Linked DNA regions of Homo sapiens. The protein of the gene in region 1 interacts with the protein of each later gene in a pairwise test. Each region holds a gene or a part of one and is shown on either strand. Other genes may lie near its edges. The genes, in order: PLD2 and UNG.

Evidence for each region.
Region 2: the proteins of PLD2 (region 1) and UNG interact in binary tests that used the Homo sapiens proteins (3 or more experiments, as listed by UniProt).

What each region holds. Positions count from the first base shown.
Region 1 is NC_000017.11:4,813,412-4,817,228, reverse strand, and holds part of PLD2 (phospholipase D2), read right to left. Parts: intron 2,812-3,817; coding exon 2,728-2,811; intron 2,597-2,727; coding exon 2,518-2,596; intron 1,754-2,517; coding exon 1,643-1,753; intron 1,466-1,642; coding exon 1,295-1,465; intron 688-1,294; coding exon of another isoform or gene 649-687; exon of another isoform or gene 610-648; coding exon 483-609; intron 293-482; coding exon 174-292; intron 154-173; coding exon of another isoform or gene 84-153; coding exon 1-83.
Region 2 is NC_000012.12:109,104,022-109,107,838, reverse strand, and holds part of UNG (uracil-DNA glycosylase), read right to left. Parts: intron 1-3,817. UniProt on the Homo sapiens protein: Uracil-DNA glycosylase that hydrolyzes the N-glycosidic bond between uracil and deoxyribose in single- and double-stranded DNA (ssDNA and dsDNA) to release a free uracil residue and form an abasic (apurinic/apyrimidinic; AP) site.

The DNA.
Region 1 (3,817 bases):
GTGAAGGGGAGCTGATTGGCCGTGCTGGTAGACTTGGGAAGCAGGTAGGGGTATGTGGGAGTCTTGTACTTGGCCTTGGTGGTCTGACGTGGAGGGATGGCAGAGTCAGCAGGAGGTGCCAATCTGCCCTGGCTCCCTCCCTACCTCCAGCCCCTATCGGAGGGAATGAACACCTTGGTGAAGTTCCAGCGCTGGATGAAGTGCCGGGCAAGGTCCCGGGCCGGTAGGCCATGGACGACCACCCCAACGTCCCGCCATGGCATCCGAGGGGTCGTCTCCCTGTCAATGAAATCTGGGGGGTCCCAGGAGAGTCAGGGGAGATGTCAGGGCTGGACTCCTTGGGACACTTGGGGCAGGGAGAAAGAGCCTGCCAGAGGGAGGGCTGTACCACCGTTGACCCCTCTCATCCCACTCTCAGTACCAGCCCCAGCTTCTGACCCTGCTCTCAGCTCTCTGGGGCTTTGGCGGGTGGGAGGCTTCACCTTCGAAAGGCCGGTCCAGCTGCACCCAGTCCTTGGTGATAAGATTGCTGTAGTCCTTGCCCAGCCAGAAGAATTGGTTGTGAGAGAGGTCTGGGGTGGCTGGTGAGTCTGGGCGCGGGGTGGGAGGCTGTAGGGGGAACACACCCAAGCCAGGGGCAAGGGGAAGTCATGGGGCTGTACAGAGCCAGGGCCAAAGAGAGGAGCACTGAAAGAGTGAGAGAGACCGAGAGGAAGAATGAAACAGAGGGTCTGATTCCCCAGCCCTCCCCTCCAGTTGCCTTTGACACTTTTAGAGGAATGGGGTGATGGTCAGTGAAAATGGGGAAAGGACTGGGTGGGTGACAGCACTTTTTTTTTTTTTTTTGAGACAGAGTCTCGCTCTGTTGCCCAGGGTGGAGTACAATGGCACAATCTCGGCTCACTGCAACCTCCGCCTCCTGGGTTCAAGTGATTCTCCTGCCTCAGCCTCCCGAGTAGCTTCAATGACAGGCAACTGCCACCATGCCCAGCTAATTTTTTGCATTTTTAGTAGAGACAGGGTTTCACCATGTCGGTCAGGCTGGTCTCGAACTCCAGACCTCAGGTGATCCACCCGCCTTGGCCTCCCAAAGTGCTGGGATTACAGGCATAAGCCATGGCTCCCGGCCAGTTACAGCACTTTCAAAGTGGGTTCTTGGAGTCCCAGAAAGTCTGAGGAACCCTGAGGTTGGCAGGGCCTGGAATGACTGAGGGGGTAAGGCTGGAGCTGGGAAATGGTGTTGATTGAGCTTATCTGAGTTTGGGGGTGCTCAGGAAGGCCTCAGGGGGATTACCTGGGAGGCAGCTGATTCAGAGGAGTCTCCAAGGTCAGTCAGTCGGTAGTGCAGGTCATCCCAGCGGCCATAGGCAAGGTCCAGTCCCCCCAGGAATGCTACCACTTGGTCCACCACCAGGAGCTTCTCATGATGGGCCCACAACGTCACTTGGTCTGGGTGACGCATCACCTGGAGCAGGCATGGAGGGTTCATGAGGGTGGGTTTAGGTGAAGGAAAACAGGAGGTACTGGGAGGGAGAGAGGAAAGATGGAAAGATGAGACCATCAGGGAGCGGGAGCGCTGGGGGCTGGGACAGTGTGGGGAGAAGGGCTGTCATGTGGGAGGGTCTCTGAGGCCGAGAGTCACCTTTATGTTGGGGTGCAGCAGCATCAGCGCCCTCTTGCTATAGCCACTGTTGATGCCCAAGGCCAATTCCACTTCTTTAAACAGCAGAATAGACACACGGACACCCTCCTCCTGGTGGTGAGTTGGGGAATCAGATCCTAGTGCCTCTCCCAGAGTAGCCCCTTTCCACACTCCCAAACCTTTTCCACGTGTGTCCCTCCAGCTTGTCTGGAGATCCTAGAGGCTCTGCCACATATGCCCTGCTTTGCTGCTTGCCACAGACTTAGACTAAATGTCATCTGTGTGCTCACCCACTCACCCATCCACACATCTATCCACCCACCCTTCATCATCCATCCATCCATCTTCCCAAGCATTTACTCATCCCTTTATGTACCGTCTATCATTCATCCATCTACCTGCCTACCCTCCTAGCCCTCCACCTTTCCAACTCATATCCTTCCATCCATCACCCTTTCTGTCCTCTATCCATCCACCTGCCCAGCCACCCTGCATCATCCATGCATCCTTCTTCCTGTCCATCAACACCACACATGCCCCCTCCATGGCAGGTACTGTGCCTTGTAGTGGAACAGTGATATTAACTAGTCCAGTGAGAGAGATAGACATGTATACCCCCAGATAACACAATAAAGTATTATGTATACTGGGAGGGAAGTCTCTGCCAGGTGGAGGGAGCATGAAGAGGAAGTTGTCAGTTCTCCTTAGGGCAGAGGGAGAGGGCGGAGGTGATGTCTGACAGGTGCTGGGCCAGGATGGACACTTTTCCCTCCCCTGAAGCCTCAGACTGCCTAATTCTCCCACACTGCAGCCCTGCTAATCAACCTCCACCCACAGGCAACCCCCTCCCCCTGCGGCCTGACCACTCTCCTCACCGCCTTCCTCTTGAGCATAATGTCCAGTCTCCAGTCATCTGAATGGGCCGGACGCTTCAGGTAAACCTCAGGACTCAACCTGGGATTCAGGGCAGTGGATTAGGGGCAAACGAAGCCCCAGACCACCAGCTGCACCCCCCTTCTCCTCCTAATGCTGATCTGCCCCAGGCTCTATCCTGCCCCATGTTGTTGGGGCCTTTTCCCACTCACCACCAGTCTGTGATGAAAATCTCCTCTTGAGCTCGAAGGATGGCATCTGCCACAGCAGCAAAGTAACCTGCCCCATTCACAAACCTGGGGGGAGGCCAAGCCAAGGAGGTCAGGGGAGTCAGAAGCCAGAAAGCTCTGGAGAGTGAAGACCGGAGGACAGTCGTGGGTCAGAGGTGACAGCAAGGTCAAAGATCAGAAATGATCAGAGAACACAAGTGGTATCAGACACATCAAAATAGTGTTTGCCCATATGCGCTAAATACAAATAAAAATTACAAAAAGACACAATAACCTAATCAACTAAAGAACAGGAGGATTAATACATCATACATAAAGAACACCAATAAATCGACAAGAAAAAGTCACATGAGCCAACTGAAAAATGAGCAAAGAGTAAGAACTGACAGTTCACAGAGAAATTAAAATGGCCAATCGTGGCAAATGTTCAGTTTCACTAGTAAACAACGAAATTAAAATGAAATTACATTTAAAAAATCCATTAGATTGGTAATAATTCAAATCACTGGTAACATTCAATATCAATATTCAATATGCTGGGGAAGTGGGTATTCTCATAGACTATGGGAATATAACTTTTAGGAGACAATTTGGCAGTATCAAAAAATATATATATAGCTTTTTGGAGATGGTGTCCCGCTCTGTCACCCAGGCTGGAGTGCAATGGCATGATCTTGGCTCACTGCAACCTCCGCCTCTTGGGTTCAAGCAATTTTCCTGTCTCAGCCTCCCAAGTAACTGAAATTACAGGCGCCCGCCACCACGCCTGGCTAATTTTTGTATTTTTAGTAGAGACGGGTTTTTGCCATGTTGGCCAGGTTGGTCTTGAACTCCTGACCCCAATGATCTACCCGCCTCGGCCTCCCAAAGTGCTGGGATTACAGGCATGAGCCAAAGCGACTGGTCAGCAGTATCAAAATATTAAATGCATATACCCTTTAATATCATTAAATATACATGGTAATTACATGTCTAGGAATACATCTAATACAATGCCTAGGCAAATGTTGTGTTCATCACATTGTTTGTAAGAGTGAAAAATGGGAAATAATATAAGTGTCTAATCTCTCAC
Region 2 (3,817 bases), on another chromosome or scaffold:
AAAATGGAATAGTTGGCCGGGCGTGGTGGCTCACACCTGTAATCCCAGCACTTTGGGAGGCTGAGGTAGGTGGATCACCTGAGGTCAGGAGTTCAAGACCAGCCTGACCAACATGAAGAAACTCCGTCTCTACTAAAAATACAAAATTAGCTGGATGTGGTGGTACATGCCTGTAATCCCAGCTACTCAGGAGGCTGAGGCAGGAGAATCACTTGAACCCAGGAGGGGGAGGCTGCAGTGAACTGAGATCACGCCATTGCACTCCAGCCTGGGCAACAAGAGTGAAACTGTCTCAGAAAAAAAAAAAAAAAAAAAAAAAAGAGGAATAGTCAGTGGCCAGGTGTGGTAGCTCACGCCTGTAATCCCAGCACTTTGGGAGGCCGAGGCAGGAGGATCGTTTAAGTCCAGGAGTTCAAGAGCCAGCCTGGGCAACGTGGTGAAACCCTGTCTCCACAAAAAAAAATACAAAAATTAGCCAGGTGTGGTGGCGCACGCCTGTGGTCCCTGCTACTCAGGTGACTAAGGTGGGAGGATTGCTTGAGCCTGGGAGGTTGAGGCCGCAGTGAGTTGAGATCAAGCCAGTGCATTCCAGCCTGGGTGACAGAGCTAGACCCTGTTTCAAAAGAAAAAAAGCAATAGTCATACATCACCTAATGACAGGGATGCATTCTGAGAAGTGTGTTGTTAGGCAATTTCACTGCTATCCGTACACCACAGGGCATCTTTACACAAACCCAAATGGGATAACCTACCACTACACACCTAGGCTATATAGTGTAGCTTATTGCTCCTGGTCTACAAACCTGTGTAGCATGTTACTGTACTAAATACTATAGGCAACTGTGACACAATGGTAGGCATTTGTGTATCTAAACATAGAAAAGATGCAGTAAAAATATTTTTTATATATATATATATACACATATATATATACGTATATATATATGTGTATATATATATATGTTTTTTTTTTGAGATAGAGTCTCACTCTGTTGCCAGGCTGGAGTGCAGTGGCATGATCTCAGCTAACTGCAACCTCTGCCTCCCAAGTAGCTGGGACTACAGGCACACGCCGCCACACCTGGCTAATTTTTTGTATTTTAGTAGAGACAGGGTTTCACTATGTTGCCCAGGCTGGTCTCAAACTCCTGAGCTCAGACAATCCACTCGCCTCGGCCACCCAAAGTGCTGGGATAACAGGTATGAGCCACCACACCCGGCCAGAATATTATAATCTTATGGGACCATCGTCATATATACAGTTTATGACTGAAACATCATTATGTGGCAAATGACTACTTTGATTTTTTTAAAATATCAACTATAGTTATTTTAACAGGGAGATATAGACCATTTTTGTTTTCCTCTTCTTTTCTGTATATAAAAACTAACGAACAAATCACTGTTTCTCAAAACACTCTTGCCTTCAAGGGGCTCAGTCCAGGAGGGGCGATGAGGGGTGAGGACTAAAGCCAGGCAATCCAGTGTGGTTAAGAGTACAGAGCCTGGAGCCAGACTGCCCGGGGTCGAGGCCTACCTCTACCCTCAGTAGCTGTACCACAGAGAAGTTGCTGCAACTCTAAGCTGCTTCAGTTTTCATCTGTAGACTGGGAATAACAATACCGCCCAGCTTATGAAGTTACTGTGACCAATCAAATGAGGATCACAGGGGCTGAGTGTGATAAGAAGTCATGCACACCAAATGCTGAACACACACGCAAGCAGCACAGGCCCCTGTAAATGTCAGCCCTGCAGAGCTCTAAAGAATCCCAGAAGAAAATGACCTCTACACTGTAGGCAGAGAAAGCAGGATATGCAAAGGCAGGGAAGTGGGGCACCGTGAAAAAGTAAAGGGGAATGGGTCAGCCTAGGGATCGGAGTGCAAAGAGGGATAGAGTTAAGTCTGGGAGGCCGATTGGGGGCCACCCCTCTACCCCCCTGAAATCAGATCTTCAGCCTAAGGCAAGGCCTTCCAGGGAGAAAGCATCAGAACCCTCCAGGCAAGATCAGGTGAGGGCCTGAATGAAGGCAAAGGTGGTCAGGCAGGGGTAGATTTGGAGGGGGAAGAAAGAACACAGATATGAATGACTGACTGACTGGGAAGGTGGAAAAAAAGGACAGAAGAGGGGAGAAAGAGAGGTAGGCAGGTGTCAGTAATAGATCTGGCTGGACAACTGGGCAGATGATGGTGCTTTTTGCTGCTAGGGAGTGCAGAGGAGGAAGTTTAGTGAAGCATGGATGAGAAAAGGAGAAACTTCGTTTGGAAAATGTTGAATTTGGCATGTTCATGGGGCAGTAGTAACAAGGCACTCTATAGATCAGAAGAGACACTGGGCTGGAGATATGCAATTTGGCTTTAATGACCAAGCTACTTTAACAACTGTTTACTTTCAGACCAAACCATGATTAAAGATTACCAATATACTGCGGAAGAGCAACACTGGCCGTAAACCTCCCTAAGGGATAGAGATTAGCAATTACTCTCACGCACACTTCTTACATACCTAGATGATCACATCTTAGCAGTTCATACCAGTCAGATCTTAGGTCACTCATACAAGTGTATGCCTACCTCAAAGCCTTTCTGAGAGTTAAGTAAGATTCTGCATGCAAAGTACTCAACCTGGTCGGGTGCGGTGGCTTACATCTGTAATCCTAGCACTTTGGGAGACCAAGATGGGAGGATCGCTTGAGGTCAGGAGTTCAAGACCAGCCTTGTCAACATGGTGAAACCCAGTCTCTACTAAAAATAAAAAATATTAGCTGGGTGTGGTGGCAGGCAACTGTAATCCTAGCTACTCAGGAGGCTGAGGCAGGAGAAGTGCTTGAACCCAGGAGGCGAAGTTGCAGTGAGCCGAGATCATGCCACTGCACTCCAGCCTGGGTGACAGAAAGACTCCATCTCAAAAAACAAAAGTGCTCAACCTAGTACCCACACAAGGTAGGGGTTAAATATACGTGCACATTTCTGATACCCCCGTTACCTCCTGCTGATACACCAAAAACTATTGTCAGGTTACCTCTGCTAAGCCCTTGCCTTCGATCATTGAAGCATTTACTCTATAATTTCTCCCCCACCCAATGTCTCTCCCATTTGCCAGGGATGAACACACCCCTGGCTCGTCTCCTTCCCACCCCCTATCTCTCCCTCCTCCACTCTGCGGCTCTCCATCAAGCCTCCATCTCTAGTCCATCACGGTTCTCCTGGAGAAAGATGATGGTGACTCATGCCTGAAGGGCAGCAGTGGCGAATGAGAAGCAGTAGACTGGGGTGTTTTGGGAGGCAGAGTTGATGGGATTTACTGATGGGATGGAGGATTCAAGGATGACTTTTAGGTCTCTGATTTCCACAACCAGGTGTAGAAGTGCTTCAGTGAGTGAAGGGAAAGAGGGAGGTAGCAGATAGGGGGAAGATGTAGGGAGGGGAGCCACTGGTTTGGTCGTGTTGGGTATCTGCAATTAGACCTTGGGGTTAATAATGATCACCGATAGGCCGGGTGTGGTGGCTCATGCCTGTAATCCTAGCACTTTGGAGGTTGAGGAGGACAGATCGCTTGAGGTCAGGAGTTCAAAACCAGCCTGGCCAACATGGTGAAACCCTGTCTCTACTAAAAAATAAAAAAAAATCAGCCGGGTGTGGTGGCGGGCGCCTGTAGTCCCAGCTACTCGGGAGGCTGAGGCAGAATCACTTAAACCCAGCAGGCGGAGGTTGCAGTGAGCCAAAATCATACCACTGCACTACAGCCTGGGCAACAGAGCGAGACTCCATCAAAAAACAAAAAACCCAGAAACAAAACAATAATGATCACTGATAGTA